7 linked regions of the Homo sapiens genome follow. The protein of the gene in region 5 interacts with the protein of the main gene of each other region in a biochemical or structural test. Each region holds a gene or a part of one and is shown on either strand. Other genes may lie near its edges.

Region 1 (4,478 bases), on a different chromosome or scaffold from region 5:
CTCTGAATTTGGTGGAGAGATGGCTGTATGCAAACACTTACAAACCAACAAGCATAGAAATAATTGTTTTACTAAAAATCTGAAATCCCCCAGGGGCTGAAGCATCACTGAGGTGTTACCCTATTGGGCGAGTATAACTCTAAAGTGAGGAAAGGGACTTTATCCACATTTTCATAGTTGTTGTGGAATGGGGTCAGTAGGCTTGGCTCACTGGAAATCAACTGGACCTTGTTACCTTGAGAACTTCAGCCCATCGGCATCAATGTGAGCTTTAGGAGGGTGCAAGATTTATGAGAAGGAGCACAGTGCCCAGTGGACATGACATTGTCTAAAAGAGGATGGCACCCACCTTTCAGTTTCCTAGACTTATTCCTGGACACAGGTAAGATTTACCCTAGTCCTCTTCCAAGTGTCTGAGGGGGTATTTTTTTCTGCTAGAGCAGGGGAGAAGGTAGATGCCAACCCAACAAATATATTCTCTACCTTATCCAACCCACTCAGCAGTTCTGAAAAGCAAGGTATTATCTCTATTTGACAAATGAAAAGACTGTCCGTTAGAGCAATGGATCTGTAATAACCCCAGATTGACTTCTCCAGATGAGTCCCACAGGTAGGTAATGTGAATTTTACCTATCATTTTAAGTTCTGACAACAAGAACGTTAAGTGTCTCTACTGAACTTCATAAGTTCACTGGACAGTTATTCTCTTTGCTTTTTACATACTGTTCTGATTTTTTAAAAATATTTTATTATTTTTGTGAGAAAAGTAATTTGTGTTCTCTGGGAAAAGAAAGATTAGTAGAAAGAAAACAAAGAAATGAAATCACCTGCTAGCTCACAACTCAGAAAACCACTGTTAACCTTTCATGTATTTAACAAAAACAGACAGATTCTGTAGATGATATTATAAGCTGCTTTATTTTTCCACGAATCATGACGTCTCTGCAATGCACATGTGTGAAAATCTGCTACTGAAACATAGAGCAAGCAAACACTGGCAGGTGGGTCAAAACGCTACTGGTAGCAGGAGGAACGACTAAAGCAAAGTATTACCATAAGGTTAAAACATATGGCCTGACAAATGCCTGCCAGGGACACTACACATAAGGAATGTCTTCAGTGTCCCTTCGTGGGGCCCTGCAGCCACCCCTGAATTCCCTTGGACCCCTAGGATAGAAGGGGTCCTGTAAATTTCTTTGCATCCACAAAAACGCCCCCAATTTCTGTTTGCTTTTTCTCCTTTTATCCTCCACCCTAGCCATGTTGTCAAATTCTCTTATCATGTCCTCATTGCTGAAATTCATATCATGTATGGCTTCCTTATATTGCTTGAGGTACTGAGCCAGCCCCTTGTTGGTTTTTCTTTTGGCTTTCCTGGGTATATCATCCTCAGCTGGGCGCTTTCCTGCAGCCCTTGTTTCACTTTCTGGCTCTCCCTCACTCTCTGGCTCTCTTTCACTGTCTGGCTCTCCTTCACCCTCTGCCCTTCCCCCTCTCTCTGGCTTTCCCTCTGTCTTTGATCCTCCCTGCATCTCTGACTTTCCCTTCCTCTCTGACTTTCCTTCTCCTTTTGCCTTTCCCGCACTCTCTGGCTTTTCTTTATCCTTTAACGGTTCCTCAACTCTCTTGCCCGTGTTTTCTGTGTTTCCCTCGTTTTCTAACTTCTTGTCTTCCAGAATACAAGCTACTTCTGGCTTTCCCTCGTGCGGTGGCTGTTCTTCATTGTCTATCTTTCCTTGATTCGAAGGCATTCCTTCATTTTCATTGAAGAGTTTTTCCATGTCGAGATTTCCCCTCCTTTTCCTTTCCTGGGGGATGGGTGTGGAGGGAAGAGGAGACAAAGAGGAGACATGGGAGACTGAGGGCATGGGGTGGAATGCAGGTCTGGATACTACTTGCATCTCACCCCTGGTGAGGGTTCCCCTAAGCTGACTGGGCCTCCAAGAGGGCCTTCTGCCCACCACGTAGCCCACCACTCCTCCCACACACGTGAGCCAGCTGTTCCCTGGCAGGCCCTGCCACCTTCTCTGCACTGGTTCAGCCTGGTAAGGTGTGTGTTCATGTAGGTAAGGGGATGGGCAGGGGCCCCAATTCGGCCCTGACTGTGCCCTCCACACTCTCAACCCTTGTGGGCCCCTGTCCATGCAGCCCCCTGCTTTCACGGACCTGCGGGGATTCTGGACAGGTTGCTCTTCCTTTTCAGGCCTCTCAGAGCGCTGGGAACAACAGACGCGCAGACCTGCGGACAGACAGGAGACAGGGGCAGGGGCTGCGCGCTTAGCGGGCTCACAGGGACTCGGTTCCCTTTCCTGAGTCCAGGCCCTGCTTACCCACCGTTTTCCTCCCCTACCTCCCCCGCACCCCAGCCGCCATTTCTTTCCAGGCCTCGGGCACCAAACCAGGATGCTTTCCAAACTGCGTTTGTCTCTGTGTCCCCCTTCCCCGGAGGCAACCTGCCCCAGCGCCACCTCATTTTTGCGGAGATCAAGTGTTTCCATGGGTGTAGATTGTGAGAAGGGGTTATTTCCAGAATATGTCTACGTTTCACTGTCGCACTGCGGGGTCGCTACCCCCACCCCCCATTTCCAGCACTAAAATGGATGGAGGACTCAGTGCAAGGGGGCGTCGAGAAGGCGAGCCAGGCTTGCTTCGGGGGTTCTCCCTCCACTGCCCCCGCCCCCGCGACTCCGCATCCCCCTCCTCCCCAATCTACCGGATCCCTTCTCCGCCCCCTCCCCAATCCTACTGCCAGCCCCCTCCACCCCTGTCCCAGGGTCCGCCGGCAGCGCACGCCTTCACACTGACCTGCGGGGACCCAGGACAGGCCTGTGCCTCCTGCGGCTCGCTGAAGCCCGCTCGCTGCTCCCCCGCCGCCTGGGCAGCTCAGACAGCTGATTCTGCGCGGGCGCCCGGACCCGACCGCTGGGCGGGCTGGCGGGCGGGCGCGGGGGCTGGTGCCCACGTAGGCGCCGGGCGGGTCACGTGAGCACCGCGTCACCGGAGCTCTGCCCCCGCTCTTGCCTGACACACCTCACCTTGGAGCTGGGCCCCCCTCTCTTTCCTGACATACCTCACCTTCCATCCCTGAGGGACCGGAGGCTGGGGACGGTCGGAGTCTCGGTGCGTTTGTGTAGCAAAGTGGGGTCGCGGAGAAGAGGAGGAGAGGTGGCTTTCTGACCCTAGGTGCTTTACCTGACGCAGCTCACAGCATCCTCGCAAGGCATATCTCTCTGATGCCCATTATCGCCAGGTGTGACAGCTGATCATAGAGGTACCGGACTTTGCCAAGAGCGCTCAGCCCCAGAACTCCACAGCCCACTTTCAATACCGGCTCTGCCTGACTCCAGAGCCCGGGGGGTAGTGGTGCCTGCCAGGAAGCTGAGCTGCCACCTTGAGTGGCGGTGTTCCTGGGGTTCTGTCCTGGGCCTCCTCTCTCCTCAGTCCTCAAGTTGTCTCTCCCTGTGTGATCTCATTCATTTCCAGTAAACACCGATGACTCCCAGATCTACAGCTCCAGGCTGTTCCCTTCTCCGTGTCTCATATCAGCTTTGCCAACTGTCTATTGGACATCACCGCCTGAGTGTCCCTGAGGGACCCCAAAGCCCGTGTACCCCAAATTGATTTACCAACTTCCTTCTTGCCATCTCCCTTGGTCTCTCTCCACACTTGAAACTTACCTTCCAACATTTGATCAGTTTTCATAGAGAGAGAATGTCAGACAGGTAGAAAAGAAAGCATTAAAACATTTTAAATATGAATTTCAGATGCACAAATTCATCATAGTCCTTGGTTTACAACACACCCTTATCATCGATCCCTGCTTGTCCCTCTTCCTTCCCTTTTCTTTCCCGTCCTATTATTTCCTCCCCTTCCCATCCTTTGTCTTTTTTTTCTTTCCTTTTCTTTCACATTCGTGAAGCCACCACCCACAAAAACTAAGAATCACCAATATTTTAGCTTCTACAGTATAGTGACATGTATATGTATATATACACATGTTTATTTATACACACATATATGTATAGATGTATATGTGTGTACATATGTATGTGTATGTCTTGTGTATATCTGGGCAACAACTATTTTTATTTTGATTTGCAAAATACCTTATCATGATTACAGGATTATGAATTATGTGTGTTACACAAGCAATTCTGATTATATTTCTGCTACACATCTTTCTTCATTTAGTAAAACCTTGATCTTCCTACAGTATTTTGCTCTATCAATATGTGTATTCGTCATTATCACCACATCACCAATAATTCTGTCCTCAATGTTGAATTTTTTTCCTGAATTATCGAGGCTAGGTGTTTCAATTTCATCAGTATAAACTTCCATAAAATTATTATAATTATTCAAGAATTTGATGAAAATAATATCAAATCAGTTGAAAAGAACTGATTTTCTGTTTTAATCATCTAATTATAGTGATTTTAAGCTGTCTTCAGTAACTATTTGCTAAGTTATTTTGCTAA
Region 2 (5,051 bases), on a different chromosome or scaffold from region 5:
TGAAAATAACCCTTATCCTTGAGAGATGTAACCTGATAGCATATTTACGGGTGAAGTTATTTCATGTCTGGAATTTGCTTTAAAATGATCCAGTATGTGTAGGGTGGTGGTGGTGGTGGTAATACATAAAACAATACTGTCCATGAATTAATTGTGAAGCCACATGATTAGGTCCATGACAGTTCTTTATACTGTTTTCTCTACTTTTGTGTATATTAAAATTTTCCATAATAAATTTTCACAGTGAAAATGATCTAACCTTTCTTGGCTTCCACTTCCCCATCCATAAAATAGAAATATTAACAGAATCTTCTATTGTGAAGATTAAGGTTGTATCTGACTTACAGTAAACATTCAGTAGATGCTCACTATTGTTCTCGCTCAACTATGTAAATATATAAACAGATTTAAAAAGACATGAGATATAGATCAAAGTTTTATTAGTAGATGCTTCTGGATGGTAAACCAAGAGCTAATTTATTTTTCTTTTCATCATTTATGTCTGGACTGTTCAAATATCTACAAAGAGTATTTGTTACTCTTATAATAAGACAAAAAAACCTAACTCTTTAAAAAAAGTAACTTTAAGTCTTCCTTGAGAGAGTTTAATGCCAAGGGGGCCTGAACCATGTTTGTCCCACAAGATATTTTACAAACAAGACCACTTCATGGAAGAGTAAGATGGAATGCATATTACTGTCTTGTTCACATTTTCCTCACCAAGCTCTCATGCTCAGGGTCAAAGATCCTTGTAAACGCCAGTAAGCTTTAACATGTGGCCTTCCTAGAATAGAATGAATTGAGCCTTCCTCTCCTCCAGTGTCATGCCATCCTACTCCCTTACCTTACCACACGTTCCTCCCTACTAGCAGTTTAGCCTTTTTTAAGGGGCATGGATCACTTTGAGAATATCATGAATGCTATGCCAAGAAAAATTCACATGTAGGCATACAATATTGCATTCAATTTCCTAGGGTTCATGGGCTGCCATAGTTCATCTCCACTAATTAAGCTTACTGAGGCCATGACATCAAATTTAGGAATGTAGAAACACACATCCGGTGTATAGACCACTTTGAGAAAAACTAATTTGTACAAAACCATAAGCCAGATAAATTGGTGGATAATTATGGGCATTACATATGTGGCTTTTGCTCTGCCAAATAATTTCCATTAGGACATCTATAAATAGCAAATCCATATAATGCATTTGAACCATGCCACTGTTTGCCCAAATGCTAAGCCCTTTCCAGAACACGCCTACTGCAGAGCAACAGGCCAATTCAAAAAGTTCAATACTAGTTTTACTCTTGAGTTCAGCTACATTCATTTATAGAATTCTAGCTTTCCTCTAAAATGGCCACTAACCTATATCACTCTGGGGACTGATGTTCAATGGGAGGCAATGATACCCAGAAACTTTTTGACTGAGGAGAGGTAGTGCATGTGTATGGGTTATCAGATTGCTTTGGAGTGGATCATTTGAGATGAGATAGATTCCATCTCTTTATCTCAGGAAGGAAAAGGATAAACATGATTGAGTCCTTACAGTATACCAGGTGGACATTAGGGCCTCTCATGTACTCCTCACAATGTCTCTGGAAGTTGGGGCTTTTTCCCTCATTTCCAACCGAGTTTTAGAAAAGTTGACACACATACCCCAGGTCTGGCAGCCAGTAAGTAACAGGAAAAAAATAAAAATAAATAAGATGTAAAGCTTTCGGGCTTAGATTACCATCATTGATGGTTAACTTCAGGGGGCTGGGAAATGTACAGTGCCCAGTATCACACCAAATCCCCAGAGCCACTCAGGCTGTGATTTTCATCCTCCTGATCATATCAATGGCTTCCAGGGATGCATGTGAAGAGAGACAGGATCGCAGTCTTCCTTGCCCCATCTGGCCTGTCCCTATCCTATAAACTGGCAACCCCTTTCCTTTGCTGGTATACACGGACTGCCTCACATTCCCCAAATGCCTGGGGATCGCACAATGAAATCAGAATAAAGAGCCAGGAGCTCTACACTTAAAAGAATCCACATAACTACAAACTCCATCTTAGGATTTCCACCACCAGCTGAGTTGCCATTTGGCATTGCACTGCTAGCAGCCACATTTTACTCTATCCTCTTCCAAGATTTTCAAACATGTGCCTGGCACCCACGGGAGTTTCAGAGGAAGTGTAACAGTGACAGGAGAACTGCTGCGGGCTTGGTTTTTTGTATACGTGTTAGTGTAACTTTCATAAAAGCAAGTATAGGTTCTTAGAGTATTAACTTTCACAAGAGGAACATCAACTTTCAGACAAACGCAGGCAAACCCTTTCTTTTTCTTTTTCTTTTTTAGTGAGTAGTATCTGAAGGTAGGGGTGATCCCTGTTAAGCAAAAGGTCTCTGAGACCCTTGGGATACATACATGCTTTTCTGGCCCAGTACTCAAGCTTTTCTGGAAGAGTATCCCTCGGCTGTCTCCATCCCTCAGCCTTCAGAAGCCACCTAATACCTACCTACACGTGCTTTGGACACAAGCAGGTTCAAAGCACAAAAAAAACCAAGCTACCACCCCGCAAGAAATCGATCTCTGAACCCGGAGCCACCATGAATTGCGTGTGTGAATGTGTGGGCGGGAAGGCTGGGTCCACAGGGACGTGGTCCAGCATCGTGAGCAGCGGGTCCTACCGGACGTTCAAGTCCTACAGCCCTGGGCTAACTAGCAAGTCTCAGACCCCCACGCCCGTGCTAGATAGGAGGAGAGACAAAGCTGGACCGACAGGAGAGGAGAGTGAGTTTGTGTTCTCTTGGGGGCAAGCGTGCTCGGTACCTTGGATTCCTGGCTGCTGGTGGATGCAGGAGAGGGCGGTTGCTCGGCGCCCACCGCCTCCTTGGGCAGCCCGTCCACGCCGTCCTCGCGGGGGCTGCTCGGAGGGATCATCGTGGCCGCGCGGGAACGGTGTTGGGCTCCCGGAGGAACAGCGAGGCTTCTGTCCTGCGCGCCCTGCCCGCCGCGCGCCAGGCTGCTCAGCTCCGGGTCCTGGGGACTCCCATCCTCGCCGAGGCGCCGACGTGCCCTCCTCCAGCCTCGCTCCCTCTCCCTCCCCGCCCTGCCCACCTCCCCGGCACTTCCGCGGGCGTGGAGGAGAGTGCGCCCTGCCCCGCCCCGCCGCGCCCGCGGCCACCTCGCCGGCGACCTCACAGTCGTGACTGCCACTCGGCAGCGGGCGAGCGGGCTTCTGCTCGCCCGCAGGAGGAGGAAGGAGGCGGGGAGGCAGCTCCAGGGCGGGGCTGCGCGGCCAGCGCCTGGAGTAGTGAGGGCAGGCAGGGGGCAGCGCCCTGGAAAGGGCTGGGGGAAGGCTGGGCGCACGCCGGCACTGGGTGGGGGTGATTCTTCAGAGAGGATGCTGAAAATTCAGACCCAAACCCCAAAGAATAGAAAATCTGTGAATGATATAGCCAGAAAGAGCCACTTGCAACAACTCCCTCATTCCTCACCCCAACGAATAGTGACTGAGACAGTGACTTAGCTAAGCTATTTATAGGGTTCAGTGACAGAGAGCAGGGGTCGGAGTGGGGGTCCCCTGACTCACGGGCACTGCGTTTTCTCCATTCAGCTTTGATCTAAAGCAGAGAGATAATGCAGTGTGTATATGGACACCTGTTCCTCGTTTGTTGTGCACTTATTGTACTAAACCCTTTCTTTTTACCTTATTTAATCCTCCCAGCTACTCTATGCGTCTAGGGATTATCACTTCCATTTTATAGATGAGGAAGTTGAGGCTGTAGGAAGACTGAGTAATTTGCTTTAAGTCACTAAACTATAATTGGTGAAACTGGAATTCGAACACATTTGGGCTTCAAAATCCATGCATTTCCGACTGTGGAGCCTCAAATCTAGGCCAGGTCTTGGCTGAAGAGCAATTGGATGTTGCAGTATAGCAAGAGTTGAGGACTGTTCACAGAGGGGCAAACCAGCCTGCCTTACTAAATCTTTTGGAAACATAGGAATAGCCCCACTGAATAAAGATACAGAGGGTCCAGTTTCTTTTGAAGACAACCTCAGTGTGCAGGGAAAAGAAACACACCTAGATATTTAAAAGCCTCTTTTCCCCCATTAATACAAAATACCCTCAATTTTTTAAAACAAAATTGCAAACTTCTGTTCAGATTTTTAAAATTAGCTGTAGATGTTTGCAAGAACAGCTTCATGGATGTGCAACCTGTGCAGTCACACAGGGCCCCGCGCTGATGCTGCCATCTTGAAATTCGGTAAAAATATTTAACAAGAGATCACATTTTCATTTTGTACTTGACCCTGCAAATTATGTGTTTGGTCCTGCATCCATGCCCTAGCTCATGTCTTTTAGAATAAACTTGCTCTTACTCTTTCCATCCCAGATGTCAATTGAAAGCTACTGTTCAATGTGTCAGCCTCTTACTCAGCATTTAGCTTTCAAAATGCTCTAAATTTTCTGGTGACCCTCAGTACGGGGCCAGATTGGCTAGCCCAAATGGCTTCAGCTTTTTCCTTCTCACAACACAATGCCTGAGTGTTCGATAGAGACAGAATTCTAGTAGCCAAAGTCACAAACACAATGACAGGAGCAGCCATATCAACACATTTTTATCAAGCATCTATTCTGTATCAGAATTGTGCCAGAAACTAATGATACAGCAGAGAGAAAACACAGATTAAGTCTGTTTTCCTGGAATTTAAGTCTAGTGGGAGAGACAGCAATTAATTAAATCACACACACATTTAAAAAAAAACTATGATAAGGGAAAGTACAAGACTTTGATGAGTGTGTACAAATGAAGCCTGAGCTAGCATGGGGCCAGACGAGGGTTTTCTTAGGAAACAAAACTCCCAGGGTCTACTGGCAATTCCAGTCTTGGTGAGCAAGCATGTCATGGCTTAGAACAATAAATTTTTCATCCTTTTTTTCTTTTGGATTTTCTTTTTTTAAGAATTGAAGATGTCATCCTTACTTTTAGTAAGTGCTTAGCTCAAGTTAGCAACAGTATTAGCCAATAGTATATGTTTAAATGTTGTCCCTTG
Region 3 (3,853 bases), on a different chromosome or scaffold from region 5:
ATGACACAGTATAGTTACTGTCATTATCATTGTCCTCATAGGGCTTAGAGTTCCCAAGCAGACAGTCATTCTTGGGCCACAGCACATCCTATACTTAGGGAGTGGTCCAGGCCAGGACAGTATGGCTTCAAATTGTGTCAAAGGAGAGCTTCCAAATCTTTTATAATATATATCCCAGCATCCAGATACAAATGGTAATATTCACGGCACACACAGAAGCAAACAGTAGGCTACTTCTGGCCCTGAGGTATCTTGAAGGGTTGAGGGGGATCAATATCTTGGCTCATCTGTACTGTGACAGATTTGGAAGATCTAGTCTAACCCATTTTTTCCCTCCCCTCCCCCTACCACCTTCAGAGAAGCTGCTGCTGGCTTGGACTGCGGTGGGGCTGCCCCTCCAGGATGTGTCTGTGGCTGCCTGCAATTTCTGTCGCCGTCCTGTACACTTTGAGCTCATGAGTGAGTGGGAACGTTCCTACTTCGGGAACATGGGGCCCCAGTATGTCACCACCTATGCCTGAGAAGCCAGCTGCCTAGGATTCACACCCCACCTGCGCTTCACTTGGGTCCAGGCCTACTCCTGTCTTCTGCTTTGTTGTGTGCCTCTAGCTGAATTGAGCCTAAAAATAAAGCACAAACCACAGCATGTGAAGCCTTTTATTGGACAGGGAACAGACAAGTGCATTCTGACTCCCTCAGACAAGTGGCAGATCTATGAGGTAACCATAGGTCACTTGTTGGTCACCATTCCATTTTACCAACAGGGAAACAGAATGAGAAAGAGGAAGGAAATGCCCAAAAACTACACAGTGAGTTGCAAAGAGCTAGGATACTTGGCAGATTTATTTGAGATGGCTCTTCTCCAATGGTTTCAATAAAAATCCAGGGATTGACGCTTCACTGGTAATCCGGGCCCTGGAAATCTGGGCCCAGGGTAGCCCCTGAAGCCAGGAAATGAGTCAGCCCTAACCAAATTCCCTAGAAAGGAGTGGTTCCCCAAAACCAAAGAGGTATTTTCCATAAGGGGATATGGATGTCTTCCTCAATCCATTATCCTCTCTCCCTCCCACGGCATCCCACAGAACAGGATTTACCAGTCCCATTCTTTTTCTTTTCTTTTTTTTTTTTTGGAGACTGAATTTCACTCTTGTTGCCCAGGCTGGAGTGCAATGCATGATCTCAGCCCACTGCAACCTCCGCCTCCCAGGTACAAGCTATTCTCCTGTCTCAGCCTCCTAAGTAGCTTGGATTACAGGCACGCGCCACCACGCCCAGTTAATTTTTTTGTATTTAGTAGAGACGGGGTCTCACCATGTTAGGCTGGTTGCGAACTCCTGACCTCAGGTGATCCACCCATCTCAGCCTCCCAAAGTGCTGGGATTACAGGCGTGCACCACTGTGCCTGGTCTACCAGTCCCATTTTCAAAGGTGAGAAGAGGCTTGGCTAGAGCAAGCACTGTGTTCAAAGCAATGCTCCCACTTTCCAGGTCACAGTATACAGGAAACATTTCCATGGCACACTTAGGGGTACTAATGATACTACTTGCTAAGGAGGCAATCGTCCCTGAAACTTGTGTGGTCCCAGGCCCTGCCTGGCAACTCTGAGGGCTGAGGACCGTTTCTTTCAACCCTGTAACCCACTGTGGCAGCTGTGGGACGCACTAGCTGGAAAGCTCTGGTTTAAGGCTACACAGCCCACCTTCCTTGCTGATTTCACCTTAGCCGTACAGGAAATTCCTACAACTGAGCAGAGAACCCTTTATGGTGAGCACTGCTGCTCACGCCTCACTATTCCCTCCTCCCCCCTCCCTCCTCCCCTTTCTCTGGGAATTACATCATTGGGCTACAGCCAGCCGGCAAACCAAGTATTGAGATAGCTTCTCTGACTCAACTTTATGGAGTACCTCCACAATGTCCAAAGTGCAACCCTGAAACAAATACACAGACTTTATTTATGCACAAATACACTTTCCAGCAAAGACAGAAGTGATTTAAAATCACACAACTTCCTGGGGCAGCTAGTGTCCGTGTACTTCGGACAGGAAGGTGGAAAGTGGTGTAAGGGGCTGGGTCACAGGATTAAGGCACAAGAAGCTCACCAACAAGGAGCTAGGTAGGAAGGAAAGCGAGGAAGAGAGGGCTTAAAAGAGGAAGAGAAGGGTAGGAGACTTTGAGGGAGAAGCAGGAGGCAGCTCAGGGAAGGGGAGCTGGCCTCAGATCATGTGCAGGGGTGACCATGCCAGATGTCCCCAGGCCTCCATTGGTTCAGCTGGGCCTGCTCCAGAGGAAGAAGTTGCACCGGGAGGAGGGGTCAGTGGGAGGACCCCGGGGCCTGGCACACATGTAGAAGCGGCGGCCCAAGTTGGGTCCTGGCTTCTTCACAGTACGCATCACACATGGCTCCCTGTGGCCCCCACAGAGGGGTGTGCGCAAGGGCCCCGCCAGCACAGACTTCCAGAATGAGGTCCGTAACTCCTTCTCATCTTTGGCTTCTGAAGTCTTGGCCTGCCCCTTCACCACTTTGGCCACTGCCTTCTCTTCTGGAGTCTTCGGGGTCATGAGGGCGCTCATCAGTGGTAGGCTAGGCAGCTCTATGTCAGGAGAGGCTTGGGGACAGCTAGGGGAGGGCTGAAAGTAGCTCTTCAGGTTTTTCTGGCCTCTGCTAGAGCCAACCTGACTGGGCTGAGGCCTGGTTGAGCGCACTTGGGCTTTGTTTTGGCATGTCTGTACCCGGGTTTGATTGTTGTGCTGCAGCGTCGACTGCTCCAACACAGGACTTTGTTCGAGAGGAACTAGGAAGCGAAGGATCTTGAGCTGGGTGCCTGCAAACTCAGGGAGGAAGCGGGTGCACAGAGGTGGGCACTGTTTTGCAGGCACAGAGGACACACTCAAGACTGCACCCACAGGGCAGTGGTCAGAGCCCATCACCTCAGGCAGCAGGAAAGAGGCCTGAAAGGTGTCTATGACCAGGGTCCTGTCCCCCAGCACATAGTCAAGCCGGGAGCCATAGTTGAGATGGCGGGCGCCAGTGACTGCTGACCAGCAGGTGAAGGCCCCCTCCTGCTTTGGTTGGAAGCAGCGGTAGCTATCGATGAAGGGCCCTACATGAGAGGCAGACTGGCACCCCAAGTTACTGAGCAAGCTGTCCATCCACTTGCGCCCTGGGTCCTCTTCAAAGCATTCCTAGGTGAGGAGGAAAGGGGGTTGGAAGAGAGAGAGACAGAACTAGATACCTAGAACTGGAAGGGACTTAGACTAACTGCTGCATTTTGCAAATAAGAAAATTTGGTTGTCCCAAGAGGACTACTGCTCAAGGTCACACAGTCCGGAATTGGCAGAGCTGGGATTCTGATTTTCATCCTTACTGATTTAAAAGACCATGCTTGTTTTTCCCTCTGCACGAGCTTGCATTTGTCTTGCATTGGTCCGTCAATGGCAAATCTGAAAGTTTGCTTACTCAAAGCAATTCCTGGAACTGCTTTTCAAAAGGATGGAAAACAGGAAGTTAAAAGTGTTTGCCTCTAGGAAGCAGGGCTGGGGTTAAGAGTTAGGAAGACTGTCAGCTTCTTCCTTTAAACCCTCTGGCACTATTTGGTTTATCTAGTGTGTCAAAGCCCTCAATGACCATTCCTACCTCCTGAGCTGAGGACCTGCAAGGATCCAGGTCTGAATACTTCCTTAGGCTCTGATCCCCAATCCATCATCCATCAGTCCATCCATTCAATCCACCTACCCACCCACTCATTCAATGCAAGAAATGTTCATGGAATACCTATTATGTGCCATGCATGATGCCAGGGACAAAGTAGGAACCTGATCTACTCCTGGGGACCAAGGAGGCTTCCTTTCGAGA
Region 4 (4,255 bases), about 10 Mb from region 5:
TTTTATGCTTGTGGTCCATCTCAATTTCAAGAGCTCAATAGCCACATGGTGGCTAGTGGCTATCATACTGGACAGAGCAACTCTAGAAGGATAAACGAAAAGCTAGTAACAGTGGTTACATTTCTGGAAAGCACAACTGGGCAGCAGGAGGTAGGAGATGTAAAGGAGGCTTACTTTTTTCAGTATTTGCTATTTTGTTCTCCTTGACTTTTATACCATGTGCATGTGTTATTCGAAAAAATGAATAAAGTACATTCTCTAAAATAAATTACAAATGTAGATATTCTTTGAACTACTCCTAGAAATCTATCTTACAGACATACCTGCAAAGGAGCAAAATGCTATATAAACGAAGTTATTTGTTGTAGCATTGTTTTTAATACCACAAGACTGGAAACATTCAACAGAGGACTGATGATATATTCAGACACCCGGCCAGGCACAGTGGCTTACGCCTGTAATCCCAAAACTTTGAGGGGCCGTGGCAGGCAAATCGCTTGAGCCCAGGAGTTCAAGACAAATCTAGGCAACATGGCGAAACCCCACCTCTACAAAAAATTTTAAAAATTAGCTGGATATGGTAGGCATGCGCCTGCAGTCCCAACTACTCAGGTAGCTGAGGTGGGAGATTAACTTGACCCCTGGCAGTCAAGGTTGCAGTGAGCTGTGATCACACCACTGCACTCCAGCCTGGGTGACAGAGTGAGACACTGTCTCAAAAAAAAATTTACAGACACCCATACAAAAGAATATTATACAACCCACTACTCCAAAAAAGAAGAAAGGCATTCATTACATACTGACACAAAATAAGATGTACTATTAAGTGACATATGTGACCACTTGTACTAAAAGGTAATATACACACAAAATTGTTCATAGATGCATAAAATCTCTGGAACACCACACAAAAACCTAGTAAAGCTACTTGCCTTTGAAAAGGCAACTGTATGGCAAAGAACAGACCAGTAAAGAGACTCTTCACTGGGTATCCCTGAATTTTGGATTGCAGTCATGGATTATGTATACAAAAATTCACTATTCCACATGCAGCTGTAGATGTTTTCATGTACCCTGCCTTGCCTTGCTGTGATATTAAAGTCCATCTAAAGCCTACTGTTTTTCCAGTTCCTCCATAGAGAGGTCTGAGGCTTCTTTCTCCAAGAAGCCCCAGATGTTTCAATGATACCAGAACACTTTTCATTTTTTAATTTTTTTAAGCACACAGTTCCCACAGTTCTGTCTCCTTTCATTGAATGGCATTATAACCTCAGCCCCAACTACTGAATCTTATCTCTAGTAAATCCCCCAAGGCCACACTTCCCTTAAAGTTGACTGATTTTTCTAAGTTTCTAGTACCTGGGCACTTTCTCTCTCAAGATCAACTGTATACATAAGAGAAAACTTTTATATTTTATCCAACATTTTCATCTGTTTACAGTAAGAAGAATGGGCCTAACTTGTGTCTGTGTCATTTTAAGAAATTTAGATAAAGACAGTATAAACAATAACAGCAAACACTGAAGAAAGTATGATCACTGAGAAAAGACTGCTAAACTTGACAGTTCATCCGGAAGGCCAGTAGGAAGGGAAATGTGAAAAAGAATGGTTAAAAAATATGTTTGCAAAGTTGAAGTCAAGAACAGATAGTGATTAAATGTAGAAAGCAAAAGTAGATTGCACTTTTAAAAGGTATGGAGGGAAGAGAAATTTCAAATCTTCAAACTGCAGGAAAATACAAAATATTCCCCAAATACCTATGTGAATTTTTATTTAGAAAGAAAACCAAAGTTAATTATTTCAACAAAAATACTTTAAATATGATGGTGCTGCCTCATCTAGAACATCTAAGGTCCCACTAGAAATAATATAAAATCACTGTGCAGTCAATCCTCCTTATCTGTGGGTTCCAAATACATGGATTAAACCAACCATGGATAAAAAATATTCAGGAAAAAACTGTGACTGTACTGAACATGTACAGACTTTTTTCTCATCATTTCTAAAACAATATAGAATAACAACTATTTACATTGTATTAGATATTAAGTAATCTAGAGAGGATTTAAAGAATAACAATAAAATGTGCATAAAACAAATTCTACACCATTTTATACAAGGGACTTCAGCGTTCTCATATTCTGGTGCTTGCAGGAGAGTCCCGGAACCAATCCTCTGTGGAGACCGAGATTTTTAGCAATCTATGTTCAAACATACTACAAGGCAGAGAAAAAAACAGCAGCATCAATGACCTGGAATTGTATAACTGTTTTAGTCAAATAAATAATTCATTAGTAACCAGGATAATAGAAAACCTCAAAAAAATTAAAATACATAAAACCCAATTTTTTAAAAACAGATTTTTCAATTCTCACTACAACTATGTTCTCTCCAAAGCGTAAGCTAGTAAGGAAAGACACTGCCAACTGGAAACCTAGGTCGGCCCCCATGGAGAATGATGGGTCATGTCTTTTAAACAAAAGCAAACAGAAAACATTCATGTGTTCAACTTTATGGACTGTCAAACCTAATGCAAGCTTGAATTTAATTCAAGAAAATTATTATTTTAGCAAAAGTCCACATTAAATAGGGACTGCTGTGTAAAGAGACTACTTATTTTTTTTTTTTTAACTAAGAGTTATATTCCTATCACCTATAATGAGTTTTGTGGAATCCACAACTCTATAATCAACTTGTAAACACGTAACTTACATATTGGTTTATCATTCCCAGATTATTAAAAAAAAAAAAAAAGCACCTATGACAACACTACACAGGCCCAGACTCAAATCAGCACAAATATAAAGTACAAGTACTCTAATTGCTCTTCAAATTCCCAAAGTCTATCCTGACCCTCTTCTGAAGCAGCAACTAATACCACGTCAATTCACGTGAGTGGGGTCCTCAGGCCATAAAAGCTCAATTAAAGCAAAGTCTAGAGTAGTGCCACCCAACACAACTTTATACAATGATGTAAATGTCCTTGGGTATCTGTGCTGTCTAATACAGTAGCCATCAGCTGCATATGGCTATCTAAATTTAGATTAAGTAAAATTTAACATTCAGTTTCTCAGTCACAGCAGCCACATTTCAAGTGCTAAATAGCCACATGTGGCTGGCAGCTACCTGTTAAGATAGAGCAGGTCTACAGCAAAAATTTCTCCAAGACCTACTGTTCTTCAGCTGTGCTTCAAAGGCTTCCTGGTGGTGAGGATGAGAGGAAAACTGATCAGGCAGGACTTCAACAACTGCCTATTCTTCCTTCCACAAAACAGCTTTACTCCTTTTATCTGTTTTACATTTCGAAATTCTGCATATTTCTCTCTAAAGGCTTTCTAGTTGCTGCTGTGTGTGCAGGTGTGCACATGTTTTAAGTCTGACTACTACTGGTTTCGAGCAGAAATGGCCAATGCACAACCTCAGGCCAAAGCTGGACCCTCCTGATAACTAAAACATTTTTTAAAAAAAAGTTTAATTGATCAGCTAACATGAACTACAACCTAACTACCTGTCTATTAAGAATTTTAGGCCGGGCGCAGTGGCTCACGCATGTAATCCCAACACTTTGGGAGGCCAAGGTGGGCGAATCACCTGAGGTCAGGAGTTCGAGACCAGCCTGACCAACATGGTGAAACCCCGTTTCTATTAAAAATACAAAATTAGCCGGACATGGTGGCGCATGCCTGTAATCCTAGCTACTCAGGAGGCTGAGGCAGGAGAACTGCTTGAACCTAGGAGGCGGAGGTTGCAGTGAGCCAAGATCGCACCACTGCACTCCAGCCTGGGCAACAGGAGCAAAACTCCGTCTCAAAAAAAAAAAAAAAAAGAATTTTAAAAGTGGATCTCAATAAGGAAAATTTACATTTACTACCACAGATAAAGTATCTCTAGTCAACAAAAGAGTTTCAATAGTTCACTCAAGTCAAGGCAGAAGGCTCACGGGCCCAGCTTCCACTGCATCATTTATGAGGATTTTATATAGGAGGCTCTGCAAAAAAGATTTGCCACCCCACATTTTCTTTTTTTTCTTTTTTTTTTTTGAGACGGAGTCTTGCTCTGTCTCCCAGGCTGGAGAGCAGTCGCGGGATCTCGGCTAACTGCAACCTCGGCCTCCCCGGTTCAAGCAAGTCTCCTACCTCAGCCTCTTGAGCAGCTGGGACTACAGGTACCCGCCACCACACCCAGCTAATTTTTGCATTTTTAGTAGAGACAAGGTTTCACCATGTTGGCCAGGCTGGTCTCAAACTCCTGACCT
Region 5 (4,255 bases):
GAGACACTGGGGTAAACACTAGAAAGAAGTAGGGATCCACCCAGCTCCCCAATGAAACCATGTAACAACAATAGCCCCGGTGATAACTATAATTAACACCTACTAAGTGCCTCTCATGAGGCACACAACCTTCACAATAATCACGAGGAAGATAACTCCCCCAATTAACAGATGAGGAAACTGAGGCACAGAAAATAACCTGCCCAAGGTAACATCTAGCAAGTGGTAGGGCCATGATGTGAATCAAAGAGGCCTGGTTCCAGACAGAGGCTGTGCTCTTAACCACTTTATAACAATGCCTCTCTGAACAGTGACTGATTTCCAGCACTTGTTACTATATGTGTGGGCAAAAAAACAAACACACACACACACTTCTCTGGAGTTTATAAACAATTGTCATGGATTTTCTTTTACTTTTAACCACTGAGGATTCACCGTGGGAGCAGCATAGAAGCTATACGCTGTAATTAAACAATGGTATAAAATAACTTAGAGTGAATGTGTTATGGAATCATTACTTTTGCTTTTCCAAGTTGAATCGCCGCATTCTAAATGATCTTCCTAACACAATGTCTAAGAAGAATGGATTTTTAGTACATAAACAGAGCTGGTAAGATAGCATGGAAGATTATGGCTAATTTGTTGTTTAATTCATAACGTTTTAAGTAACATACCATAACTATTTAAAGGGAAAATTACACATTTCTGTTCACCTAAATTTATATTTTCATGGTAATAAATCTCTTCCAAGTGTCAAAGCGACTCAATAAAAATATGCATATGATACCCAAACAAGTTACAGGGCTCATTCAACAGCTCAACTATGATAAAAACAAGCTGTCATTTAATGAGACATGGTTAGACCCCTGTGAAAAATAAATTACAAACTAAAAATATCTTAAGATTTTCATACTGAAAAATAATGTGGGCTGGACACAGTGGCTCACGCCTGTAATCTAAGCACTTTGGGAGGCCAAGGCAGGTGGATCATGAGGTCAAGAGTTCAAGACCAGCCTGGCCAACATGGTGAAACCCGTCTCTACTAGGAAAAAAAAAAAAAAAAAAAATTAGCCATTGTGATGGCATGCACCTATAACCCCAGCACTTTAGGAGGCTGAGGCAGCAGGCGGATCTCGAGGTCAGGAGATTGAGACCATCCTAGCCAACATGGTGAAACCCCATTTCTACTAAAAATACAAAAACTGGCCGGGTGTGGTGATGCGTGCCTGTAATCCCAGCTACTCAGGAGGCTGAGGCAGGAGAATTGCTCGAACCCAGGAGGCGGAGGTTGCAGTGAGCCAAGACTGCACCACTGCACTCTAGCCTGGGCGACAGAGCAAGACACTGTCTTCAAAAAAAATAAAAATAAAAATAATGTTATTCCCATTTCTATAATATAGAGCCACCTATACTTGTCAAATACGGCTTTTATAGGCACTTTCAAATTAATATTCAGATGGTAATTAATTCCCTGCGTCACTGTAATCTTTACATTCTCAACAATGTTTACTGACAGAAGAAATTATGATATAAAATCAAGCTGGAGAACATGGGAAGAAGGAGCTGCCGGGCTTTGCACCATTCTGGGGACATCGTACCTCGGGGACATCCCCGCCCTCCGAGGGCTCGGGCTCCAAGTCTTCGCTGATGTGCCTGCGGGAGCGGAAGCGCCGGTGTGCTGCCTCCTGGTTGATCTGTCTGATGTTATTGTCCGACTCCGAGGACACGTCCCTGAGCATGCAGGAAAGGGGGAAAGAGAAGAAGAGAAGTGGTTGAGATCGGGCCCTTCATGACAGTTCAATGCTCACGGAGGGCCAGATGGCCACTAAAGTGTCAGCGTCAAACACTGACAACTAGCTGGTCATCCAATGTGAGAATTCTCCCACCATATTACGGCTAAAGTATAGGTTAAGGTTCATTTCAATCAAATAAATGCAGTTTTAAAATGCATTAGTCACACCATTTTGAGCATCTTTCAGGCATACATTTCAAAATATACCTCAGTGTTTAATAAAAAACAGAAATCAAAGTCCTCTGCCCATTTGCCACAGTGACAAGTCAGACCTCTGGAAGCAGAGGTGACAGGCAAGTTCACACAGCAGCTGGGCAGTCCCAATCCTTCTAGAAGTCCAGCAATGACAAGGCAGCTACTTCTGGTCACCAGCAATTTGACCAAAGACTACAAAAGGGACAAATTCAAAGCTGTCATCTGGAGGAAAGTACACCTGATCCAACATGAATTTTTTTCAGCTGCTTTCTAGCTCATTTTAACAGAATCTCAAAATCGTGACACTGCATTTACCTCCTTTACCCTACTTTAAAAATCCTAATAACATCAGGAGATAACCTCTCAAGTCAGCCGGGGTCTGAAGAACACCAAAACATCATACCCTATTTTTTGTCATGTGATGTTCTCAATTCAGGATCTAAAAGTTTTGATTCAATTTGGAAGACTTTTTTGGGCTGGGCATGGTGGCTCATGCCTGTAATCCCAGCACTTTGGGAGGCCAAGGCGGGCGGATCACTTGAGGTCAGGAGCTCAAGACGTACCTGGCCAACATGGCAAAACCCCGCCTCTACTAAAAACACAAAAATTAGCCGAGTGTGGTGATGCGTGCCTGTAGTCCCAGCTACTCAGGAGGCTGAGGCAGGAGAATCACTTGAGCCCAGGAGGCAGAGGTTGCAGTGAGCTGAGAGATCATGTCACTGTACTCTAGCCAGGGCAGCAGAGTGAGACTCCATCTCAAAACAAAACAAAACAAAAAAAAAAAGAAAAAAGAAAACTTTTTTTTTTGCAGTAAATTATAGGCAATCATACTTTGGGGGAAATACTAGTCAGAGGCTTTTAGTGTACAAGTTTAAATGCCAAAAATTTTTTCAGGGAAAACTCTCACAGATACTTTCAATAAGATAACATATCCCATTAACAAAAATTATGTCACAAGTCAGTATCTCAAAAGTTGAAATCGTCATTTCAGACTAACTGAAATATAGTACTTATCAAGAACACTCATTATAGACTCTTTCTAAAACACAAATTTTAAAGTTTTCTCACACATTCTGAAATGAACTTATACTGTATCCCAATAAAGGGCCTGCTAGCAGAGGTTGTGGTGGAAACTCTTTTTCCTTAACTAACTTTCCTCTTGCCTTCTAGAAGTTATGCCCATTGGAAGGAGGCGCTCCTCAGGTTCTGCCAAGTTCTGCTGTGTCCTTCCTGGCTCAGCCTCTCCCTTTGGCATTGCTGCCTCCTTGATGGGGCAGTTATGCCTCTGCCTTCTCCCAAAACTACATGTGAGCCCGAACTTGGATTAAGAACTGCATTTTTCAGCCGGGCGTGGTGGGTCATACCTGTAATCCTAGCACTTTGGGAGGCTGAGGTGGGCGGATCACCTGAGGTCAGGAGTTTGAAACCAGCTTGACCAAGCCAGTGAAACCCCATCTTCACAAAAATACAAACATTAGCTGGGCATGGCGGCGGGCGCCTGTAATCCCAGCTACTCAGGAGGCCAAGGCAGGAGAATCGCTTGAACCTGGGAGGCGGAGGTTGCAGTGAGCCGAGATGGTGCCACTGTGGGTGACAGAGTGAGACTCTGTCTCAAACAACAACAGAAAAAGAACTGCATTTTTCCCTTGTTGCTCTAGACTAGTGAAGAGCCAGCAAGTTATACCTTTTGTTTTAGTTTCTGGGACACTGCCACCAAAGATGGTTTCTCTTTTAAATCACTTTATTGAGGTCTAATCAACACATTAAAAAGCTGTTCATGTTTAACGTACACCTCTTGATGAGTGTGGGGACATGTCTACACCTGTGGAGCCATCAAAAAAATAGTATATATTTTAAAATGTATGAAGTGTTTTCTCAAGAATTCCCTCGTTAGTTTCACAACTCTGTGAGGCAGAGAAAGTAGCAATTATCCCTATTTGTCCCCAAAATACAAACTCTAATCTGCATGATCCTTATTTATGAAGTTGAATATTTTTCCATATACATATTAGCTATCAGGATTTTTTCCTTTGTGAGTTGCTCCTGGCCACTTTTCTGCAGAGGTCGCATGAGGATCTACCTTTTCAGTACTCCTTTCTCATGCTGTTGAGCAAAGGTAGGTAATGGTGCTTTGCTTAGGATATTGCTACCAAGATTCTTCTAGTCACTACATGTAACCAAGCCCAAGGTGGGTCCAAATTCATTTTTACTACAAATAGCTACAATGGATTACAATAATTCTAATAGCTATGGGCATTAATCAAAAGG
Region 6 (4,255 bases), on a different chromosome or scaffold from region 5:
CAAAACAAACAAAAAAAAACCATAAAAAAACACTTAGCCGGGCATGGTGGCATATTCCCGTAATCCCAGCTACTCAGGAGGCTGAGGTGGGAGGATGGCTTGAGCCCAGGAGGCTGAGGGTGCAGTAAGCTAAGATCGCATCACTGCATTCCAGCCTGGGCGATGGAGCCAGCCTGTCTCAAGAAGGAAAAAAAAAAAAAGCCACTAGATGGTGAAAAAGGATCTTGGATACAGTGCTGGCAAAATAAAGAGAGCTCTCTGGCCAGGCATGGTGGCTCACACCTATAATCCCAGCACTTTGGAAGGCTAAGATGGGAAGATCACTTGAGGCCAGTAGTTTGAGACCAGCCTGGTCAACATAGCAAGACCCCATCACTATTGCAATTTTTTTTTAAGAGAGTTCTCAGGTTTGAGAATAGCAAAGGCCCCTTATTAATACTTTAATCAGAGTACAGTAGGTTTACAAGTTAGAAGTGACATTATAATGGGCCCTGTGAAATACAAAATTACTTTCTTGAATCATCTGAAATTTTCTGGGAAGGTTCTCACATTCTTCCTTTTATCTGCATGTCAAGCAAGATGGCTTCATGGTTGGTCAGAGGTAAGTTTTACACACCTATGGATGAAATTCTTCTTCTCTAAGTACTCCATTGCAGAAGAAATCTGAGTGGCCATGTAGAGCAGCACAACTGCAGTCACCTCTTCTCGGTTGCATTCTCGGAGGTAATCCAGCAAATTCCCGTATGGCATGTATTCAGTCACAATGTAAAATGGTGGCTCCAAAGTACACACACCTAAAAGTTGAACAATAGTGCTTGTTTTTATTAGTGTACATTCAAACACTCCAAACCACTTTGGCCAAGAATAATTTGACAATTTTTCAGGTCTAGTTCGGCAATAATCTTTTCCCTTCTTACCACCACGTTCTCTGAAATTAATAAGCAAAAACTAAGAAGCTGGTTTATAAGGGAGTCCTTGCTTTCACTGTATTGTTCTCTGGGAATTCATATGCCTCTGAGTATTTGTCTATTTGAGCAAAAGCAGAGTTACCTGTATTAATTCTATAAGGGGCCAAGAAAACCAACATGTCTAGAGTTTTGCACATGGCCCATGATTCTCCTCCTCAACTGCAGGCTAACAATACTTATTCAAAAGTAATAGCAATTGTGCACAAGCTGAAGACTATGTGAGCCCCACCTGCAATACTGCTTTGCAAAATGATTTTCATCATTTCCATAGTCAAGGATTTCACTGATATATGGCAGATTCCTTATAAAAAACCAACAAGAGGCCGGGTGCAGTGGCTCATGCCTGTAATCCTAGCACTTTGGGAGGCTGAGGCAGGCAGATCGCCTGAGCCCAGCAGTTCAAGACTTGACTGTCCAACATAGCAAAACCCTGTCTCTACTACAAAAATTAGCTGGGCGTGGTGATGCACGTTGAGGCACGAGAATAGCTTGAACCTGGGAGGTGGAGGTTGCAGTGAGCCAGGATCATGCCACTGCACTCCAGCCAGGGTGACAGAGCAAGACTCTGTATTTAAAAAACAAACAAAAAAAAACACCCCCCACACCCCCCCAAAAAAAAGAAAAAAAAAAAAACCTGGCCCTATTTTAAAAAAGGAAAAAGGCTTAGTAAGAGAGTTCTTTGTGACCTGAACAGTGAAAAGCCAATCTAACATAATAAAGCATTTCCTGCTTGTAAAGGTAAACTGAGGGGTGTGGTCACAGTTTTTAATTTGCTTCTTTTCAACAGTCCTTTGTTTAATGTCTCTTTATTTTGCAAAAACATTTCATGAGTTTTTGGTTCAGTACCATTTTGAACACTTCTGAACTTTGAATCTGGGGCAATTAGTACAAACTGAGCAGTTTTATACACCAAAATCAATCCAGGCCACTGTTTCTTGGGCTATTTTTAAACACAGAACCTACTGATTAAAATAACTATTTATTGAAGTGGATTCAAACCTGCAGCTTCCACCATGGTGACTAAAAAGAAAGGTTTGGGGGAGGAAAAAAGGCGGGGCATGGTGGCTCATGCCTGTAATCCCAACATATTGAAAGGCCCAGGCGGAAGTATCACGTCAACAGCAGCCTGGACAACAGAGCGAGACCCTGTCTCTATATTTAAAAAGAAAAAAAAAAAGCATTTGGAGATAACAAGGGGTTAAAGGGCAAGCATTTTTGGAGGAAATCTATGGTTCAGGCAAGGTTCCTCACCTAAAAGTTGTACCAGATTAGGATGCTTGATTTCCTTCATTACTGCAGCTTCTTTCAGGAATTCTTCTACCTCCATGGTATCTTCCTAGAAAAAGGGAAAGGTAAGAAAGAAGAAAACGAGAGGGACAAACCCTCAACTTAAAATCATTTCATTCATCTCACAATCATAAAGCTTCAGCTTTAAAAGTAAAAACTATCTTTTGAATATTTTAGCATATTACAAGATATAATTATTATTTTAATTTAATTTATTTTTTTGAGACACGGTCTCGCTCTGTTACCCAGGTTGGGGTGAAGTGGTGTGATCTCACTGCAACCTCCGCTTCCTGGGCTCAAGCGATTCTCCTGGCTCAGCCTCCCAAGTAGCTGGGATTACAGGCATGCACGACCATGCCTGGCTACTTTTTGTATTTTTAGTAGAGACGGGGTTTTGCAATGTTGGCCAGGATGCTCTCCTGACCTCAGGTGATTCGCCCACCTGAGCTCCCCAAATTGCTGGGATTACAGGTGTGAGCCACCACGCCCAGCTGAAATAATTATTATTTTAAGAAGTCCAACTTAGAAAGAAAAATGCCCTGGAGTAAAAATTAGCAGGAGGAGCAAAATTCAGCAATCGTGTCCTATAATCAACTGAAACACAGGAGCCCTGTATTGGATAGTTCAGTTCTCTCATAGTTTACTTCTCCAGATATCTCAGGCTTTGAATGACGAGACAGAGCACTTAGCTGCTTACATACTTATCTTCTTGCTTAGATCATAATCTTCTTAGAGAGCAAGGCCTTATATATTGCTTCACACTCAGAATATGCTTAAGAAACAGAACTGACTACTACTTAATAGCTAAAGAATAGCCCTTATAAGTGATACACCAGAGACAGTTACTGAGGCTCTGGGAGAATCAAGTGAGTGAAAACCTTATAATTTGATACTGGGATGTTTAAAGGAGACATATAGTAGTACTACGAAAAAGATTTCTGTTAATATTAAGAAGTGATCTAACTGCAAAGAGACAGGAGGAACAAGAACAAGGGAGAGAAAGGACAGAACAAGAAAGAGGCCCATGACTCTCAGACAAGAATTCTGTCCAGCAGGGGTCGTTCTCAGGAAGCAAAAGAGCTTATTTTGCTTTTATAACTTTTAATTTGCTTCTAACCTCCCACTAAGATCTACATCAACAGCCTCCAGAGACAGACCTTTCCCACATGTGGGTTTCACTGCATTGCAGTGAATAATCTACCTCTGCATTGTCAGCAATGGCACTAGGGTTAATCATCTCAATTTGCTGATGTGCTTGGCACTAGTGGGTGGAAAGTGTTCCAAAGTTAAAGAAGGGCATGCTGATATTTCCAAGTGATTGAGCACAAAAGAAAAAGATGCCTGAAAACTGTAATTCTCAGCAACCCACCTTCAATGTTTTCACAGCAACTGTAAGGCTGTATTTCTTCCAGACGCCAACGTAAACCTCTCCATACTGACCGCCCCCAAGTTTGTGCTTCATGGTAATATCTGTTCGCTCCATTTCCCATTTGTCGTGGATGGGGGACACACCATAGACTGTAGGCTTATTACACTTGGGTGCTGGGTAGTGTAATGTTGTCACCAGCCCATCAGCCACTGTGGAGTGATGGTGTACAAGCTCTGCCAAGGTGCTGAAGCGGCTCTCAGCAGTCACATACACCTGGTAAGAAAAGGAGAAAAGCTAAACAACTTGAAAAGAGATTAAGAATTTTTTTTTTTTTTTTTTTTTTTTTTTTGAGATGGAGTCTTGTTCTGTCACCCAGGCTGGAGTGCACTGGCGCGATCTCGGCTCACTGCAAGCTCCGCCTCCCGGGTTCACGCCATTCTCCTGCCTCAGCCTCTCTGAGTAGGTGGGACTATAGGCGCCCGCCACCATGCCCGGCTAATTTTTTGTATTTTTAGTAGAGATGGGGTTTCACCGTGTTCTTGATCTCCTGACCTCGTGATCTGCCGGCCTCAGCCTCCCAAAGTGCTGGGATTACAAGCATGAGCCACCGCTCCCGGCCTAGGAATTCTTT
Region 7 (4,255 bases), on a different chromosome or scaffold from region 5:
TAATGTTAATATCAATTAAAATAACAGAGACTGCTGTTTTCTCCTTCCTTTTATTAGTAGACCTCTGAATTTGACTAGCCACTCAGCTAGAGATGGATTTCCTAGCCTGTCTTGCAGATAGTGTGGCCATCTTTAAGTTAGGACCAATGGAATGTGAACAAAAGTGATGAGTACAGTTTTCTGATACTCTCCTTAAAGACAAAATTGCCTGTCTTCGTTTTTTCTCTCCTCTTTGAATTGAGTGGAAAAGCCAACTGGCAGGAATGTTGTTACCTGTGTAGAGTTTGGCAATACCAATCAGGGAGTACAGCTGACTACCAACCCTAGGCTGTACATTTACCTTTAAGTTTTATCTGCTAGAAAAATAAACTTATTTTTAAACTTCTGTATTCTGAATTTCTGAATGTTACGTTCCTTTCTCTCTACAACCTCACCAGCATCTGTTATTTTTTGACTTTTTAGTAGTATTAATTCTGACTGGTGGGAGATGGTATCTCATTGTGGTTTTTATTTGCATTTCTCTAATGATCAGTGATGTTGAGCTTCTTTTCATAGAATTGTTGGCTGCATGTATATCTTCTTTTGAAAAGTGTCTGTTCATGTCCTTTGCCCACTTTTTAATGGGCTGGTTTTTTTTTCTTGTTTAAGTTCTTATAGATGCTGGATGTTAGACCTTTGTCAGATGCATAGTTTGCAAAATTTTTCTCCCATTCTGTAGGTTGTCTGTTCACCCTGTTGATAGTTTCCTTTGATGTGCAAAAGCTCTTTAGTTTAATTAGATATCATTTGTTCATTTTTGCTTTTGTTGCAGTTTCTTTTGGTGTCATCATCATGAAATCTTTGCCTGTTCCTATATCCAGAATGGCATTGCCTAGGTTGTCCTCCAGGCAACCTATATAACTATAAATGTTATAGTTTACATTTAAGTCTTTAATCCATCTTGAGTTAATTTTTAAATTTGGTATGAGGAAGGAGTCCAGTTTCAATGTTCTGCATATGGCTAGCCAGTTATTCCAGCACCATTTATTGAATAGGGAATCCTTTCCCCATTGCTTGTTTTTGTCAGGTTTGTTGAAGATCAGATAGTTGTACGTTTGTAAGTGTGTGGCCTTATTTCTGGGTTCTCTATTCCGTTCAATTGATCTGTGTGTCTGTTTTTGTACCAGTAATATATATTGCATGTAGATACCACATATGTACTAAATATGTAAGAGATTTTATGATTAATAAGTGCTTGTTGGTCATTGCCTTATCCTGTGAGGAGATGGCACTTGAGTTGTGGAGTAGCAGTAGGTTATTTTTTTCAGAGAAGATTTCTCAGATGTAGTGACTATTTAATTTGAGTGATGAAAAGAGAGCACAGGTTTTCTAAGCAGAATTCATGCACTGAAATTAATGTACTAAAGTGTATTCTCTTGGCTCACAGAAAAGCCGCTCTAATATTCACTTAGAAACTTTTGACTTATTCAGTACATAATTTTAATAAGCTTAGTTGGCTTCTAATAAATGGTATATTACAAACTGCCAAATGCAGATGCACAGGCAGTGATAAGAAACAACAACCAGATGTGATGTATAAGGCAAGAAAAACCACCAGTGGATGCATAGAAATTAAAACCAAAAATAGACTAGGGCTAAATGTTACATAAAAGCAATGAATCCTGCATGCCCTAGTAACTCTAGATAGCAAGCTGTACAATATAGTAATTAATGGTGGTCCCCAGGTCATCCAGATGTTTGTGTTTGGGCTCAAGTACCCAGGAAAATTTACGATGTATATTTGCAAAAAACTTCATCAGTTTTTCAAAAAGATTTGGAAATTAAAGGAAATAATTTTGTATGCAAAATTAACCTATTTGGAATCACATGTTTCTAAATCATGCCTAGTAAGTGATGAATTTCTGTATTTTACTTATTCATCAGACATTCTTTGAGAGGTTATTATGTGTTAGGCATAATCTTGACACTGGCCACACAAAGGTGAATCAGATACTTCTGTGTCATTCACTAACACGATGCCTTGCATATGGTATATAGTAATAAATATATGTACGTTAAGACAGAGAAGAAAGTGCTAATTTGGCTACTAATCTCTGCTATAACTTATATCATTTTGAAAATTACCACAATTAGATACAGAGAGGGTGAATACTATTAGATTTGGAATTTCAATTGAGTAGCACAGTAGAGGGCTTTTAGCAGTATGTATTAAAAACAATTCAAAAAGTTTAATCCCTTTAATTTGTAATCCTAATTCTAAATTTAAAAATCTTAAGAATGATTAAAAATAAGCACAATGCTTTTAAATGATACTTTGTTGGCATTATGTATAATAATGAAGATACTTTAATGTACAATAGTAGAAAATTTTTTAATTATGTTATATTCATCCATCAGAATTTTAGTTTGAGAATATTATGGGAAAAAGTTCATGCTATATATTGGTAAGGTACAAAATTGGCTACAGGAAAGTATGCAAAAATACTGAGTGACTATTTTATGATATTGGGATTATAGGTAATTTTTTCTTTCCTTTTTCTTCATTGTTTCTTTCCTTTTTATTCTACTTTCTAAATTTTTTACATAAACACATACTCTTTTAACTGTAAAAAAATCAAATGCTATTTGTAAGATAGCTGTTTTTCCATTCTGAAATAGATTTTTTTGGAAATAAACTTTTATCTTGGGAGATTAGTAGGTACTACAATGGATTTCTGTGGATATTATCAATGACCAAGGCTTGAACTTTGTTTAAAGCCACAATAATATCACAAATTCACCCTGAACGATTTTGTCACCCATTAAAAATGACATGTTTAATGCATGTTCTTGTCTGTAAAGTTGAAGCAATGAATAAAAAGTATATAATATTACTAAAGCCATAGATAAGAACTCACAAAAATGAAATAGAGAATTTTTATGTAAATACTTAATGTTCTCTTTTGCTTTCATGAATTTGCAGCTCCTCAGTGGGTAGTGCACTTCCACGAAGACGCTGCTGTGCATATATTACCATTGGAATGATATGTATTTTCATTGGAGTTGGGTTAACTGTGAGTGTTACACTTTGATGTTAGAATTCTGTCCTCTCAACTTTATCAGTAGTCAATCATGAGGCCTGGGACAACCTTCAGGGATTCCTGAAGAGGCTGCCTCCTTGGCATGCCAGCACTAGAAGCTTCTGAATGATTATGAGCAATCAGAAACCCAATCCATGGACCTCTTTTTGATTGAACTCGCCCATCCAAGTGAAACGGTGTCTTTTTACCTCCAAAAGTCCTTACTGTTGGGGATTTTATCATCTATTTAGCAAAAGCCCATTTAAAAAAAAATCAGTGCCAGAACTAATTTTTATGGCTATGGGGTCTCTTATTATTCAAAGCAATATTCATTCAGCTACAGAGATCTAAAAAAACCACTCTTCTCTTTATCCAAATCAAGCAGAGATTTATTACCAATATGAGGATGGCTTGTTTTTAGAGAAGACTGGAGCTAAGCAGTTAGCATGGGGATTATGCCAGAAGAGGAAGATAATCTCTTTGGCTGCCATTTCCATGCTCCTTTGTTTGTCAGTACAACTAGTCCCTTATTATTAGCAATGTCCTATTGTGTCCCATGATAGTAAGAAGTTACATGGATTAAATTCCTTGTAGAGATAATATAGTTTAGTGTGCTTTTTTGTTTACTTCATAACATTTATAGTTACTACAAGTAGCAGTATGGTCTATCAGTTGCAGTCAACAGATACACCTACTCTTATAAGGACTTTGTGTATTCGGTCTGGGGGTATATTTCATAACAATCACATGTAAGCTGATACAAGTTCCCTAAGCAGATATTTTTTAAAGTTTCTAATATTTTGTTTTTATATTGCTTTTTATTTTAGGTTGGCACCCCAGATTTTGCAAGGCGATTTCGAGCAACCTATGTTTCTTGGGCAATTGCTTATCTCCTAGGATTGATCTGCCTTATCCGAGCTTGTTATTGGGGAGCCATAAGAGTCAGTTATCCAGAACACAGTTTTGCATAAGCTTGTTTATGATTCAGTAATGCAGGTGAGAGTGTCTAGCAGTTCTTGGTAAGCTACTCTGGACATCTTTAAATTATTTATCCTAATGGATTCCATTCTGGTTTATGTATAATCGTTTCAAGACTTTGGGAGTCTTTTATGAACAAATGCTCATTGCACTATATTATATGCAAATTGTTTTGCTGCTAGGTTTTCAAAATTTGAATAATAAAGCCTTTTCATGTT

The links.
Region 1: the proteins of NEDD4L (region 5) and TCEAL2 form a complex in vitro, tested with the Homo sapiens proteins (one large-scale study listed by BioGRID).
Region 2: the proteins of NEDD4L (region 5) and STAC form a complex in vitro, tested with the Homo sapiens proteins (one large-scale study listed by BioGRID).
Region 3: the proteins of NEDD4L (region 5) and APEX2 form a complex in vitro, tested with the Homo sapiens proteins (one large-scale study listed by BioGRID).
Region 4: the proteins of NEDD4L (region 5) and SMAD2 form a complex in vitro, tested with the Homo sapiens proteins (one study listed by BioGRID).
Region 6: of the proteins of NEDD4L (region 5) and ABL2, one has a biochemical effect on the other in vitro, tested with the Homo sapiens proteins (one large-scale study listed by BioGRID).
Region 7: the proteins of NEDD4L (region 5) and PIP4P2 form a complex in vitro, tested with the Homo sapiens proteins (one large-scale study listed by BioGRID).

The regions. Positions count from the first base shown.
Region 1 is NC_000023.11:102,124,134-102,128,611, reverse strand, and holds TCEAL2 (transcription elongation factor A protein-like 2), read right to left. Parts: upstream 2,934-4,478; 5' UTR 2,806-2,933; intron 2,240-2,805; 5' UTR 2,167-2,239; intron 1,809-2,166; 5' UTR 1,782-1,808; coding exon 1,098-1,781; 3' UTR 900-1,097; downstream 1-899. UniProt on the Homo sapiens protein: May be involved in transcriptional regulation.
Region 2 is NC_000003.12:36,378,523-36,383,573, reverse strand, and holds the start of STAC (SH3 and cysteine-rich domain-containing protein), read right to left. Parts: upstream 3,071-5,051; 5' UTR 2,931-3,070; coding exon 2,820-2,930; intron 1-2,819. UniProt on the Homo sapiens protein: Promotes expression of the ion channel CACNA1H at the cell membrane, and thereby contributes to the regulation of channel activity.
Region 3 is NC_000023.11:55,005,848-55,009,700, reverse strand, and holds the end of APEX2 (DNA-(apurinic or apyrimidinic site) endonuclease 2), read right to left. Parts: intron 3,184-3,853; coding exon 2,266-3,183; 3' UTR 644-2,265; downstream 1-643. Other genes in the region: ALAS2 (5-aminolevulinate synthase, erythroid-specific, mitochondrial isoform a precursor), read left to right, coding at 358-521. UniProt on the Homo sapiens protein: Functions as a weak apurinic/apyrimidinic (AP) endodeoxyribonuclease in the DNA base excision repair (BER) pathway of DNA lesions induced by oxidative and alkylating agents.
Region 4 is NC_000018.10:47,920,440-47,924,694, forward strand, and holds part of SMAD2 (mothers against decapentaplegic homolog 2), read right to left. Parts: intron 1-4,255. UniProt on the Homo sapiens protein: Receptor-regulated SMAD (R-SMAD) that is an intracellular signal transducer and transcriptional modulator activated by TGF-beta (transforming growth factor) and activin type 1 receptor kinases.
Region 5 is NC_000018.10:58,326,471-58,330,725, reverse strand, and holds part of NEDD4L (E3 ubiquitin-protein ligase NEDD4-like), read right to left. Parts: intron 1,732-4,255; coding exon 1,599-1,731; intron 1-1,598. UniProt on the Homo sapiens protein: E3 ubiquitin-protein ligase that mediates the polyubiquitination of lysine and cysteine residues on target proteins and is thereby implicated in the regulation of various signaling pathways including autophagy, innate immunity or DNA repair.
Region 6 is NC_000001.11:179,117,971-179,122,225, forward strand, and holds part of ABL2 (tyrosine-protein kinase ABL2), read right to left. Parts: intron 3,898-4,255; coding exon 3,625-3,897; intron 2,305-3,624; coding exon 2,220-2,304; intron 795-2,219; coding exon 617-794; intron 1-616. UniProt on the Homo sapiens protein: Non-receptor tyrosine-protein kinase that plays an ABL1-overlapping role in key processes linked to cell growth and survival such as cytoskeleton remodeling in response to extracellular stimuli, cell motility and adhesion and receptor endocytosis.
Region 7 is NC_000008.11:90,995,452-90,999,706, reverse strand, and holds part of PIP4P2 (type 2 phosphatidylinositol 4,5-bisphosphate 4-phosphatase), read left to right. Parts: intron 1-2,962; coding exon 2,963-3,053; intron 3,054-3,886; coding exon 3,887-4,030; 3' UTR 4,031-4,255. UniProt on the Homo sapiens protein: Catalyzes the hydrolysis of phosphatidylinositol-4,5-bisphosphate (PtdIns-4,5-P2) to phosphatidylinositol-4-phosphate (PtdIns-4-P).